Homo sapiens: one gene and its partners. The protein of the gene in region 4 interacts with the protein of the main gene of each other region in a pairwise test. Each region holds a gene or a part of one and is shown on either strand. Other genes may lie near its edges.

What was found.
Region 1: the proteins of ZKSCAN3 (region 4) and EIF2S3 interact in binary tests that used the Homo sapiens proteins (3 or more experiments, as listed by UniProt).
Region 2: the proteins of ZKSCAN3 (region 4) and HTT interact in binary tests that used the Homo sapiens proteins (3 or more experiments, as listed by UniProt).
Region 3: the proteins of ZKSCAN3 (region 4) and LZTS2 interact in binary tests that used the Homo sapiens proteins (3 or more experiments, as listed by UniProt).

The regions. Positions count from the first base shown.
Region 1 is NC_000023.11:24,068,456-24,071,994, forward strand, and holds part of EIF2S3 (eukaryotic translation initiation factor 2 subunit 3), read left to right. Parts: intron 1-3,102; coding exon 3,103-3,272; intron 3,273-3,539. UniProt on the Homo sapiens protein: Member of the eIF2 complex that functions in the early steps of protein synthesis by forming a ternary complex with GTP and initiator tRNA.
Region 2 is NC_000004.12:3,238,681-3,241,607, reverse strand, and holds part of HTT (huntingtin), read right to left. Parts: intron 2,791-2,927; coding exon 2,630-2,790; intron 1,763-2,629; coding exon 1,549-1,762; 3' UTR 1-1,548.
Region 3 is NC_000010.11:101,002,808-101,005,609, reverse strand, and holds part of LZTS2 (leucine zipper putative tumor suppressor 2), read right to left. Parts: coding exon 2,664-2,802; intron 2,104-2,663; coding exon 1,444-2,103; coding exon of another isoform or gene 1,342-1,443; exon of another isoform or gene 1,134-1,341; intron 153-1,133; coding exon 1-152. UniProt on the Homo sapiens protein: Negative regulator of katanin-mediated microtubule severing and release from the centrosome. Required for central spindle formation and the completion of cytokinesis.
Region 4 is NC_000006.12:28,352,937-28,356,475, reverse strand, and holds part of ZKSCAN3 (zinc finger protein with KRAB and SCAN domains 3), read right to left. Parts: intron 3,119-3,539; exon of another isoform or gene 2,994-3,118; intron 2,615-2,993; coding exon of another isoform or gene 2,582-2,614; exon of another isoform or gene 2,524-2,581; intron 2,346-2,523; exon of another isoform or gene 2,272-2,345; intron 1,154-2,271; exon of another isoform or gene 802-1,153; intron 431-801; exon of another isoform or gene 205-430; intron 1-204. UniProt on the Homo sapiens protein: Transcriptional factor that binds to the consensus sequence 5'-[GT][AG][AGT]GGGG-3' and acts as a repressor of autophagy. Specifically represses expression of genes involved in autophagy and lysosome biogenesis/function such as MAP1LC3B, ULK1 or WIPI2.

The sequences.
Region 1 (3,539 bases), on a different chromosome or scaffold from region 4:
TTTTTGGGAGATGGAGTCTCGCTGTGTCCTCCAGGCTGGAGTGCAGTGGTGCAATCTTGGCTCACTGCAGCCTCTGCCTCCCAGGTTCAAGCAATTCTTATGCCTCAGCCTCCCGAGTAGCTGGGACTACAGGCACATGCTGCCAGGCCCAGCTAAGATTTTTGTATTTTAGTAGAGACGGGGTTTCACCGTGTTGCCCAGGCTGGTCTTGAACTCCTGAGCTCAGGCAGTCCCCCTGCCTCGGCCTTTCAAAGTGCTAGGATTACAGGCGTGAACCACCATGCCCGGCCATGGTTGCTTTTATGTATATTTTGCAAATGGAAAATTACCTACAAATGTCAGTTGAATGATATCAGGTCGTATTTCCAATGAGGTAGAAATAAAAGAAAGTAAATTTCTTTGTGTAGCAATTACTGAAGTGATTTAAAAACTTTTCTAGTCCCTTACAACTTAGTGTATTACTCAATACCCAGAAAAATGAAAGATTCAGTGAGAATTAGAAGGGGTGTTGTACCTTTAGATTAAAGAAGAAAATGTTTGGTAAAGAAACAGTTAATTCTTCACCCAATAAGTTGTGTCTCTGGTTGAAAATTTTAAAAAGGAAATAAAAGAAAACAAAAAAATGAAAAAGAGTTTACCAGGTTGGCTGGGCGCAGTGTCTCATGCCTGTGATCCCAGCAATTTGGGAGGCTGAGGTGGGTGGATCGCTTGAGCTCAGGAGTTTGAGACCAGCCTGGGCAACATGGTAAAACCTTGTCTCTACTAAAAATACAAAAGTTAGCTGGGTGTGGTGGCCCACGCCTGTAATCCCGGCTACTCGGGAGGCTGAGGCATGAGAATCGCTTGAACCCAGAAGGCGGAGGGTGAGCCGAGATCACACCAGTGCACTCCAGCCTGGGTGACAGAGTGACACTCTGTCTCAAAAAAAAAAAAAAAACAAGAAGAAAAGAAAAGAAAAAATGAATTTACCAGGTTGGGTATGGTGGCTCATGCTCATAATTCCAGTGCTTTGGGAAGCTGAGGTGGGAAGATTGCTTGAGACCAGGAGTTTGAGACCAGCCTAGGAAACCATGAGATGCCATTTCTCCAATAAAATAGTAAGATTAGCTGGGTTTGGTGGTGTGTGCCTGTAGTTCCATCTATCATTTTATCTTTTGTGTGCATGTGTGTGGTAAACAAGGGAAATCTGGAAACTTTTTAAAAATTTAACTTAAGGAACTTTTTTAATTTCTTTTTTTTTTTTTTTTTTTTTTGAGGCAGAGTCTCATTCTGCCACCCAGGCTGGAGTGCAGTAGTATTATCTCGGCTCGCTGCAACCTTTGCCTCCTGGGTTCAGTTAATTCTCCTGCCTCAGCCTCCCGAGTAGCTGGAACTATAGGCACATACCACCACAGCCAGCTAATTTTTGTATTTTTAGTAGAGATGGGGTTTCGCCATGTTGGCCAGGCTGGTCTCGAACTTCTGGTCTTAAGTGATCTGCCCTCCTTGGCCTCCCAAAATACTGGGATTACAGGCGTGAGCCACCACACTTGGCCTAAGGAACTCTTTAAACATAGGATAGAATACTGTAATGATAACCCCCATAGAGCCATCACTCAGCTTCAGCAATTATTAATGTTTTACCAGTCTTGGCTGGGCGTGGTGGCTCATGTCTGTATTCCCAGCACTTCGGGAGGCCGAGGTGGACGGATCACCTGAGGTCAGGAGTTCGAAAAACCCTGTCTCTACTAAAAATACAAAAAAAAAAAAAAATTTAGTCAGGTGTGGTGGCACATGCCTGTAATCCCAGCCTGTAATCCCAGGTCACAGTGAGCCGAGATCACACCACTGCACTCCAGCCTGGGCGACAGAGACTGTGTCTCAACAACAGCAGCAAAAAAAAGTTTTCCCAATCAATCTTGCTCCATCTATATATCTTCTTTCCCCTACTCCCCTCAAGACACAGCTAGAATATTTTGAAGTAGATCCCAGGAATCATATGTAGTTTTTTTTTTTTTTTTTTTTTTTGAGAGTCTCACTCTGTCGCCCAGGCTGGAGTGCAGTGGCACGATCTCGGCTCACTGCAACCTCTGCCTCCCAGGTTCAAGTGATTCTCCTGCGTTAGCCTCTCGAGTAGCTGGGATTATAGGTGTCTGCCACCATGCCCAGCTATTGTATTTTTAGTAGAGATTGGGTTTTGCCATGTTGGCTAGACTTGTCTTGAACTCCTGACCTTAGGTAATCCTCCAACTTGGGCCTCCCCAAGTGCTGGGATTATAAGTGTGAGCCACTGCGCCTGGCCCATATGTAGTCTTTAACTATCTTTTCAATCAGTCTTTCAGGGGAGAAATGGCATGCAGGTATTCTGCAAACTACTCATTTTGAATTTTGTATTCTTTCGGTCTTTGTTAAGGATATTCGGACTCATTTTGAGTTCACTTATTATCTCTATTTGCCCTTTGTTTAGAATTTATTGTTTTCAAGACCAGGTCAGTAATACTTACCATCTCCTGCATTAAGTTCTCAGCCAAGCCATCATTCCTAGAAAATCAGATTTCTAAACCCTTTGTTTAGAATTTAAATCAAGAGAATCGTTCTGTTCTCATTTGCCCAGTCATCTCATGAGTGTATATTTCTATTTGTCTAGATAAAACAGGTATTTTCTTGTACCTATATAGCTATTATATGAGTATAAAAATAAAAGTATGAAAGTGTGTAGGTATATGCTGTGCTTATATGGCTTTGGGGTATCTAATTCACTTTTTTTTTTTTTGGAGACAGAGTCTCACTCTGTCACCCAGGTTGGAGTGCAGTGGTGCGATCTCGGCTCACTACAACCTCTGCCTCCTGGGTTCAAGTGATTCTCCTGCCTCAGCCTCCCAAGTAGCTGAGACTACAGGTGCACGCCGCCACGCCTGGCTAATTTTTTGTATTTTAATAGAGACAGGGTTTCACCGTGTTGCCCAGGCTGGTCTTTAACTCCTGAGCTCAGGCATCCACCTGCCTCGGCCTCCCAAAGTGCTGGGATTACAGGTGTGAGCCACTGCACCTGGCCAACTAATTCACTTTATAGGTGTTTTAGGAAATAAAAAATTGAGCTATATACATCTTATTTTTATATAGGAGTTGGAACAAAAATTGACCCCACTTTGTGCCGGGCTGACAGAATGGTGGGGCAAGTACTTGGTGCAGTCGGAGCTTTACCTGAGATATTCACAGAATTGGAAATTTCCTATTTCCTGCTTAGACGGCTTCTAGGTGTACGCACTGAAGGAGACAAGAAAGCAGCAAAGGTAAATGCTTTTTTAAAAATTCCTGTTTCTAAAAAAGTGACAAATGGGAGTGTTAAACCAGTGTTGAGTTTTATTGTTTTACAGTTAACATGAAATTAAGAAAAAAAGAAAAGGTAAATAAATTTGACCTCCCCAAAATTGAGGGTTTTTTTTTTTTTAATTTAGAGATGGAGTCTCTCGCTCTGTTGCCCAGGCTGGAGTGCAGTGGCGCGATCTCGGCTCACGGCAACCTCCACCTCCTGGGTTCAAGCAATTCTCTTGCCTCGG
Region 2 (2,927 bases), on a different chromosome or scaffold from region 4:
AATACCCAAAACATCGACGGGCATGACCAAACCAAGCCACATGACAGTCGCCAACCTTGCCTGGCTCGCCTCTAGGGCTGAGGAAGCAGAGCCCCTGCCTCGTCTCACAGCCAGTCGGCAAGCAGAGCTCCCAAATCCAGCTCCTACATCAGCAGCAGCCCGGCCATCCAGAATCCACTTCCATTTTAATGACTTGGCTCCTCTGGGCCTGCAAACAGGAGGCTGGTCCAGGGACCTGGCCTGGGGATAGGAGTGGCGGCTCTGACAGGGCCGTGGGGCAGTCTCCGATGAGCACAGATCTGCACTCTCCTGACTAAAAGGGGTCACCGTGCAAGATGTCAGCTGGAACGGGGGCAGAAGGGATGCTGGGCTCTGTCACTAACAGTGCCAAGACACCAAGCTTTGCTGTTGACCGAGAGAGGCTCAGACAAAACACAGCTCAGTGACACTCTTAGGGCATGCATCCATGGAGCAGCAGGTCCCAACACCTGCCAGCCAGCTCCTAGGCAGACGCCACCCCAGGGCTAGCAAGGAACAGGAGTGGGAGGCCCATGTCTCTGGACACAGTGGAGGCTGCTCACAGCCAGGGAGGGCTGGCCTTCTCAGCTGAGTGACAGGGAGGCTGCTGTCCCTGACTGGTGGGTGGAGAACGACAGTCGTCTGTGCCCGAGGAGGAGGGGCTGCAGGTGAGCGCACCCCTAGGATAATGGGGGCCTGTCCTCAGTCCTGCTGTGGCCACCTGCCCACTAACGCCTCTCTACATCCCAGTCACCTTGTGAATGCATAAACAGGAACATGTACAACGGAAATGTCAGCGGGTGCTCAGGAGGGCTATGCCAGTGGCTACAGGAGAGGGAGCGTGGCCGGGGGCCCTGTCCACCACCCCGGACGCTGTCGCATGCAGCACAGGCCTTGCGATTCACATACTTTACACGGGCATAGAAAGAGTTACGTTAAAATTAATCTCTTTACTGATATAATTAAATTTTAAATCCTGAGAAGAAAAGAGAGAAGGGAGAATGGTGCCGGGTGTCTAGCACCCCCAGCCACTGGCCCAGCACAGGCCATGGCATCTGTGCATCCAGACACGGGGCGTGGCATGCACACCCCACCAGGGAGACCCAGGCCAGTGTTCCCAAAGCCTGCTCACGGCACCTTCTACTGCAGGACAGCAGAGGGGCCAACAGCCAGCCTGCAGGAGGGAGGACTTCTGGCCCAGATGCAAGAGCAGCTGCAACCTGGCAACAACCAGCAGGTGACTATCAGGAGAAAGGACCTGGTCACCCACATGGGGTGCAGCACAGCTGCTCCTGCTTTCTGGAAGGCCTCAGGCTCAGCCCCACCAGGACTGCAGACACTCCCTGCCTGGCCACTGCCACAAAGAGCACTTCTGCCACATGGCAGAGACACGCACGTTGCCTGGCCGCCCGCGGCATGTGCGGAAGCCCATAGGGACCAAGCTGGCTCGGTGGAGGCAGGGCACAAGGGCGCAGACTTCCAAAGGCTCCGGCCCCAGCTGCCGCCTCACAGTCTCTCCCACCATGGCGCTCAGCAGGTGGTGACCTTGTGGACATTTCGTAAACAAGTCAGCAGCCGGTGATATGGGCTTCCTGGGGCTGCAACCACCTCAAGCACAGACTGGAAGGCCCTGCGGTCGAGCTCCTCCTCTATCTGGTGTCTGTAGAAGTCTGTGGCGACCAGGCAGAAAAGGTTCACGTCCACCTGCTCCAGCTTGCCCATCCTGCTGATGACATGTGGGAGGCTGGTGCAGGAGTTAAGGAAAAAGGCCGGCAAATGAGGGGAATGCTGCCTCCCTGTCCTCACCTGGGAGTTCCTCTCCTGAAACAGTCTACAAAGGGGTCCAGGGAGCCTGGAGAGCGAGCAGAGCCCCGGAAGGGCCACCTGGATGCCTCCAGCTGCATCAGCGCCTCCACCTCCATTCCTGCAACCCTTGGCTGGCTGGATGCCCTGCAGGCAGGGCACCCACTCGGCAGCACTCACCTGGCCTGGCTCCTGTGCAGCGCTGGTGGCCGGTGCTTCCGCTGGCCTCCACTAGCCCTGCTCCAATGCAGTGAGGGCAGAGCCGTGCCAGGCACGCCGGGCAAGGCTGTGCTGTCAGCACCAGGACAACTGTGCTGCTTGGAGGCTCTTGTGGTCTGTCTTGGGGAAGGGCTGTGGAAAGGGAAACTCCTGGCAGCCAGCATCTGGGGGTGGGAACTGGATCTTTACTTAAGCCTTTCCCCGAGAGGGCGATCGAGGCACAATGACCAAAGCTAATGAGAAGCAGTGTCAGGAGAAGCCCAGCCACACAGAGCCCGCGAGTGGGCGGGACGTCTGCAGAGACCACCGCCCACCCTCGCTCCCCTCACCCAGGCCCTCCACAGAAAGGCCCCTCAGCTGCGACCCTCCTGCCATACACCGGCCCCTCTGAGAGGCCCTGGTCAGCAAATGTCTGGACGTGCTCCTTTCTGTACCCCTGTCAGCATTTTACTTCCCTGGGGCTGAGGGCCTGTCACCCTGGCATCTGTGGGGTTTTTGCAAAGGTTAGGTTTCAAAACCTTATCATGAAACATGAGCCTCGGTGTTGACAAGGGAAACGGGGCCAGCACCAGGGACCCAGAGAGGATACATCGCCGCGACCCACGGGCTGGTGGACGCGCTGACAAAGAAGCAGGAGAGGCTCCACGTGGCCATGGCGACCGGGGCCCTCTGCGTGAAGTTGGAGAGGGACAGCATGACCCAGTCCCGGACCATGGACGACTGCCCGGTGCTGTGCAGAGTCTGAAACACCTGCAAGGAGCAAGCAGGTGCCTGAGTGTCAGGGCTGGGGGGACGGGAAGCACCTGCTGCGCCTGGGTGGCGGGGGTGGGGTGGGGGCCAGAGGCATTGCTGCTTTAAAGCGGAGGAGCTGGGCTCTGCTGGCGAAT
Region 3 (2,802 bases), on a different chromosome or scaffold from region 4:
TCGTCCTGCAATTGCCGCTTCTCCTGCTGCAGCTGGAACACCTGCAGCTGCAGCAGCTGTTGGGCCCGCTGTGCCCGCTGTGCCTGGGCCGCACAGTCCTCTCGCAGGGCCTCACGCTCTCGCTGCCAGTGCCGCTGCCGCTCCTCGTATGCCTGCAGGCGAGAAGAGAGACCTGGCTCCTGGGCAGTTTTCCCAACTCCCCACTCAGTGTCTGCTCTGGCAGCCCACTTCCGAGGGCTCAGGAAGGGTGGATTCCATTAAACAACAATAGTAATTGCAACAACAATACTAACTGCTTTTATGATGATCATAGAAACAAACACAAGAGCAAGCAGACCGGGCTCGGTGGCTCACGCGAGGTGGGTGGATCACTTAAGCTCCGGAGTTCGAGACCAGCCTAGGCAACACAGCAAAACCCTGCCTCTCCAAAGACCAAAAATTAGCTTGGTGTGGTGGCATGCGCCTGTAGTCTCAGCTACTTGGGAGGCTGGGGTGAGAGGACTGCTTGAGCCCAGGGGGTTGAGGCTACAGGGAGCTGAAATCACGCCACTGCTCTCTAGCCTGGGTGACAGAATGAGACCTTGTCTCAAAAAATAAAAAAAGCAAGCACTTGGCCGGGTGCAGTGGCTCACGCCTGTAATCCCAGCACTTTGGGAGGCCGAGGCAGGTGAATCACTTGAGGCCAGGGGTTCGCGACCAGCTTGGCCAACATGGTGGAAACCCTGTCTCTACTAAAAATAAAAAATAATAAAAAATTTTAAAAAAGGCAAGCATTTATATAGCACTTCCTAGGTACCAGGCATTAGTCTAATCACTTTACACCTTTTGCCTTATTTAATCCTCATAATAATCCTACGAAGCTAGAAATATCCCTATATAGATGAAGAAATAAAGGCTGAGTAAAGTTAAGCAACTTGCTCAAGCCCAAAAACTAGTATTTGGCAGTGGGAGGTTTGAATCCATGCACTCTGACTCCTTTCCACCCCACAAGTTTTGTTTTTTGTTTTGAGATAGAGTCTTGCTCTGTCGCCCAGGCTGGAGTGCAATGGTGGAATGTCAGTCCATTGTAACCTCCTCCTCCTGGGCTCCAGTGATCCGCCCACCTCAGCCTCCCAAGTAGCTGGGACTACAGGTACATGCCACCACACTTAGCTAATTTATTTTTAGTAGAAATGGGGTTTCCCCATGTTACCCAGGTTGGTCTCAAACTCCCGAGCTCAAGCAATCCGCCCACCTCGGCCTCCCAAAGTGCTGGGATTACAGATGTGAGCCACCACACCTGGCTACTCCACACATTAAACCAGACAACTGGTGGGGAGGGCAGGGGGGTCACAACTACAACTACCCAACCCCCGTTCCCTGCCAAAATGGAAATGCCGCTTGCATCCCAGGGCCTTGGGATGTCCTGCCATGCCCCTTCCCCATCATTGCCTCTGACCACACCTGGCACATGGTAGCCTCATTCTCGTCCAGACTGTCCCGCAGCTGCTGAAGCTCTGCCTCCCGGTCTCGGAGCTTTCCTTCCAGGACACAGTGCAGCAGGGCCTCATCCGAAGGAGGTGGAGGCGGGGGTGGTGGTGAGCGCTCCCCACAGGAGCTGCTGTCAGGGGAGGCCCGAGTACCACTGCCCAAAAGCCCCCCAGCCACACGGCCCCCTAGGGAGCCTGTGCTCTTGCTGGAGGAGGACCGGCCACTGTCTGAGTGGGAGGGCCCAGTAGGGACCCCTCGGGCTGGCCCAGGCAGTGCCCCTCGCCCAGAGCCATGGGAAGGCAGGTGCCCGCCTGGGGAGCTGGTGGTTGGCTCGGCACCTCCGGTGCTGTAGGTGGGCAGGCTGGACAGTGAGTTTCGGCCAGAGTCGGATAGCGTCCCTGATGGGCAGCCACTGGCCCAGCCACTAAATGCCAGGGGTTTGTCAGCAGCTGAAGAGGAGGAGGAAGAGGAGGAGGAGGAGGCAGGGCCCCCAAACAGCTGCGTCAGGCTGCCCTGGCTCCCAGACAGCCCGGTGGCCCGAGGACCCATGAAGCTAGGCAGGGACGGAGCCCCTCGAGGTTTGGGCAGCACTGGCTTGAAGGCTGTTGGGCGGATCAGGATCTTCTCCATGTTCTGAAATGAGGTGCCATGTGACACTGGAGATGAGCTGCCCAATCTTGCAGAGCCCTTATGACACTCCCTGCCCTCCCGTCTTGGGTCCCCAGTGCCCATATATTCATAACAATTGCGGCCACTGGTGGAGGTGGCCACCAGTGTCAGCTTTGTGTCAAGCAATTTGAAAAGTTTATCTCCATTATCTAAATATGATCACTATCCCCATATTACAGATGAGGAAATGGAGGCTCAGCAAGGTTAAAGGCCTTGCCCAAAGTCAAACGTATAACTGGTGCAGAATAACCAGAACGTAAGCAACTAGCACTTACTGCGTACATGCTACGTGCTAGGCACTATGCTATACATTATTTGACCTTCATGTCAGTTCTAGAAACTGAGGCTCAGGTTAAGTGACTTCCCTGAGGTCACACATCCAGAATGAGAGAGAGCTGGGATTAGGACCCAGGTCTGGTGAATCTGGAGCCCACACTCTTTCCTCTATATAAGCTTCTAAATTCCAGTTTCCCAAGCGAGGACTCCCGTTCTACCCAGGCCCACAAGGAAGAGCCGGTCCTCACCTTCTCCAGCTTTCCAGAGACAGGGATGAGCTTTGGTGGTGGGCCGCGGAGGTGGGCATTGTGTGCCCGCTGCTCTCGGGCATCCTCAACATCACTGCTTGGGCTGGGGGGTGACTCTGTCCGGAAGTCCTCATTGATG
Region 4 (3,539 bases):
CAGTGCCAGCAGCATTTGGGGGAGACTCCCTGCCTGAATTCTGTCTCTCCGGGACAAAGGAGCTGATCCATTTCCTGCTCCCCCTCTGAGATGGAAAAGCTGGCTTCTTTAATTACAGTGTGGTCTGATGCCGGTGAAATACCAGAAACTGTCAGTAGATGGCAGTTGTATATAGACTTAGTGCAAGTCATTCGGGAAAAGGACATTGCTGGGCAACTAGGTCCCGCCGGAGCGTTCCAGCTCAAAGATTACCTGCTGCAGTCAGGCAGAAATGTAAAGTCTTTCCTGTTTGATTGGGAACTGACCCAGGTGCCAGGCTTGGGGGGACACCGGACAACCAAAGGCAATATGTGGACTCGGCAAGCCACTGGTCCCTAAACCTGAATAAGTTTCCGGGCAGAGCTGCATTTATTGACGGTTATGAAAGCTGGTCAGTGAAAGTGAAACCTGTATCTTTGGACCTCGGCATCGGCCGCTTAGCTCCCTGCTTATGCACTGTGGATGTCTCTCCCATGCCTGAGGACAGGCTGTGGGTGGATGTTTTGCACGGCTTGGCAGCTGTGCCGTCTATCATGGATTTGATAGGCCACTTGACAACAGAACTGGGATGGTGCCACTGTGTGGTGGACTTGGCCAATGCATTCCTCTTAATCGACATTGCTCCAGAGAGCCAGGAACACTTTGCCTTCGTGGGAGGGTGACAATGGACTTTCACAGTATTGCTGCAGGGATATATGCATAGCCCCAACATATGTCATGATCTTATTAATGATGTTATATTAACCTCTGATTCTCTTGCAGATTTAGAAGCAGCAACGCAGCCTCTTGCCTGGAATTGGGATGATGCGGCTGAAACCACCTTCCTGGCAGCCAAACAGGCTATTCAGCAGGCACAAGCCCTATGGGTAGCTGATCGGGGCACCCATTTAAACTTGATGTGCATGTGACCAGATAGTTTTGACTGGGGCTTATGGCATCACACAGAGCTCTTTAGAATGCCAGTAGACTTTTGGTCCCAACTTTGGAAGGGAGCTGAGCTCCAGTATTCCTCGACAGAGAAGCAGTTACTAACTGCATATGCTGCCCTTTAGACTCGTGACAGCCTGGCAGGATGGGCTACAGTCGTCGCGCGCATGACTTACCCAATAGCAGGGTGGGTATGCTCATGGGTAACAACCCACACACTGGGATGGCACAGACATCCACTTTTGTAAAGTGGGGTGCTTAAGCCTACTTGGAACAGCAAAGTATGCTAACTCAAGTCCCTTAGAAGCACAATTACAGGAAGTCTTAGGACCTACAGTCCTAATGCAAGATAAGGTTATGGGACCTGAGGCACCCCTAGATCCTGAGCCTTCACCTTTTAAGGAAGGGCATTCCCGCATTCCCAATGGGGCATGGTACACAGATAGGTCTAGCCAGGGTGCTACTGCTACCTGGACTGCTGTTGCAGCCCAGCCTAGTACCAACACCCTATGGTTTGATACCAGGTGTGGACAAAGTAGCTAATAAACTGAACTCAGGGCAATGTAAATGGTGATCACCAAGAAGGTGACACGTAATCTGCACTGATAGCTGGGCAGTTTATCAAGGCTTAACCTTGTGGCTAACTACCTAGAAGTTACAGAAGTGGCTAGTCACCGACCCATGTAGGGCCAGGCCATGTGGCCAGATCTATGAGAGAAAGGATGACTTCCTCCAACCAGGTATGGGGACAAACAGTAACCTGTTGTTGCCCGCCCCAACACCCTAAAGGTAGGGAAGCAAAAACCCTGGATTAATATATAAAGCAACATTGGGGTAACATCACCATGTAGTGATTGCTCACTATAACCTGAAATTATTGCTCCCTGTATTACTGTGGCCCAAGTGCCCAGAGCTTATGTGTCAGGCTTATGTGTCAAGCCTCTATGTATACATTGGGCCTGTGTGCCCAGAGCCTATGTGTCAGACTTATGTGTCAAGCCTGTGTGTATCAGCCCTGGGTGCCCAAAGTTTATATGTCAGGCCTGTGTGCCAAACCTATATATTGGGCCTGTGTACCCAAAAACCTATGTCTCCCTCGGCCAAGGGGGTGGAGTGTAAGGTAAATGGATGTGCTTTGGTCAAGAATAGGCCGAGGCAGATATGCAGGCCAGCGTGACTCAGCGAGTTTGGAACGCAGGCGCACCACTCCACTTGTTATATAACCTGTTTGTGTAAGCTCATACTTGGCTTACAGCCACTATTGTCTGTAAATGGTATAATTGCCCTGCTGACACTGTACATAGGACTTGTGCCCAGAGAGAGAGAGAAAAACTGCTGACCCTGTAAGAGAGAACTGGCCATCTTGCAGACAGACAGAGGTGAGCCAGGAATTAACAAGCATGCCAAGGAGTACAGCTGTAAGTGTGGGAGCGGCAGGAGCCACAGAGCCGTTTGCTGAGAAGGGCTGCGGTCGGAGGAGGCAGCCGAGACAGAGGCAGACAGTGTGAGAGCTGCAGCAGCTGCTGCTGAATAAAATCATATTTTACCTGCCTACAGCCCCGAGTGTTCTTTCAACTACCTGCCACCCATCCAACAACTCCCCTCGGACCTCAGTATGGGCTGGAACCTGACACTTGGCATGACAGTGGTAAGTACCATATACATGTTGGCTAATAGTATAATTCACTGGTCTTTCTTTTTTTAAATAAGAGTAGGCCTGGTGGTTCTGTTCTTGACCTTTTCTTTTCTCTATCCACAGTCTTCCCCAGAACTATCTTTAATCACTCGCAAGGTTTTAACTTCTATTTCTAGGCTGTAGACTCCTGATCCCTATCCTGAGCTGCCTCCCAGACGGTCCTATATGGAAATCTTGCAAACAAATCCAATTCAATATGCCCCAAATCAAAGTGATTTTCTTGCTTCCTAATCTACTCCTTCCTCAGTATGGTATTATCTAGAAACAACAGCACCAGCCATCAGGTTTCGTCAGAGTCATCACTTTGTAATGGATGATTTCTGTATTTTAGGAGGGAAAAGTAAGATATTCTGAAAGAGAGCCTATCCCAGAAGCCATGAGACCTGGGCCTGATCTAAGAGGGAAGGGAAACCTGAGATTCCTGTGAACCAGCTGGGACTAGATTTTAAACTAGAAGTGAGTGACTGCAAAATTATTTGACTGGACTCGGATGTCAGTAAGTCCCTCTTTACTCAGTGGAATGGAGAGGCTAGAAAATGTAAGGCTGGGCTGGGCGCAGTGGCTCACGCCTGTAATCCCAACACTTTGGGAGGCTGAGGTGGGCACATCATGAGGTCAAGAGATCGAGACCATCCTGGCCAACATGGTGAAACCCCGTCTCTACTAAAAATACAAAAATTAGCTGGGCGTGATGGCATGCGCCTATAGTCTCAGCTACTTGGGAGGCTGAGGCAGGAGAATCGCTTGAACCCGGAAGGCGGAGGTTGCAATGAGCCAAGATCGCACCACTGCACCTGCACTCCAGCCTGGCAACAGAGCAAGACTCTGCCTCAAAAAAAAAAAAAAAAAGAAAAAGAAAAGAAAAGAAATGTAAGGC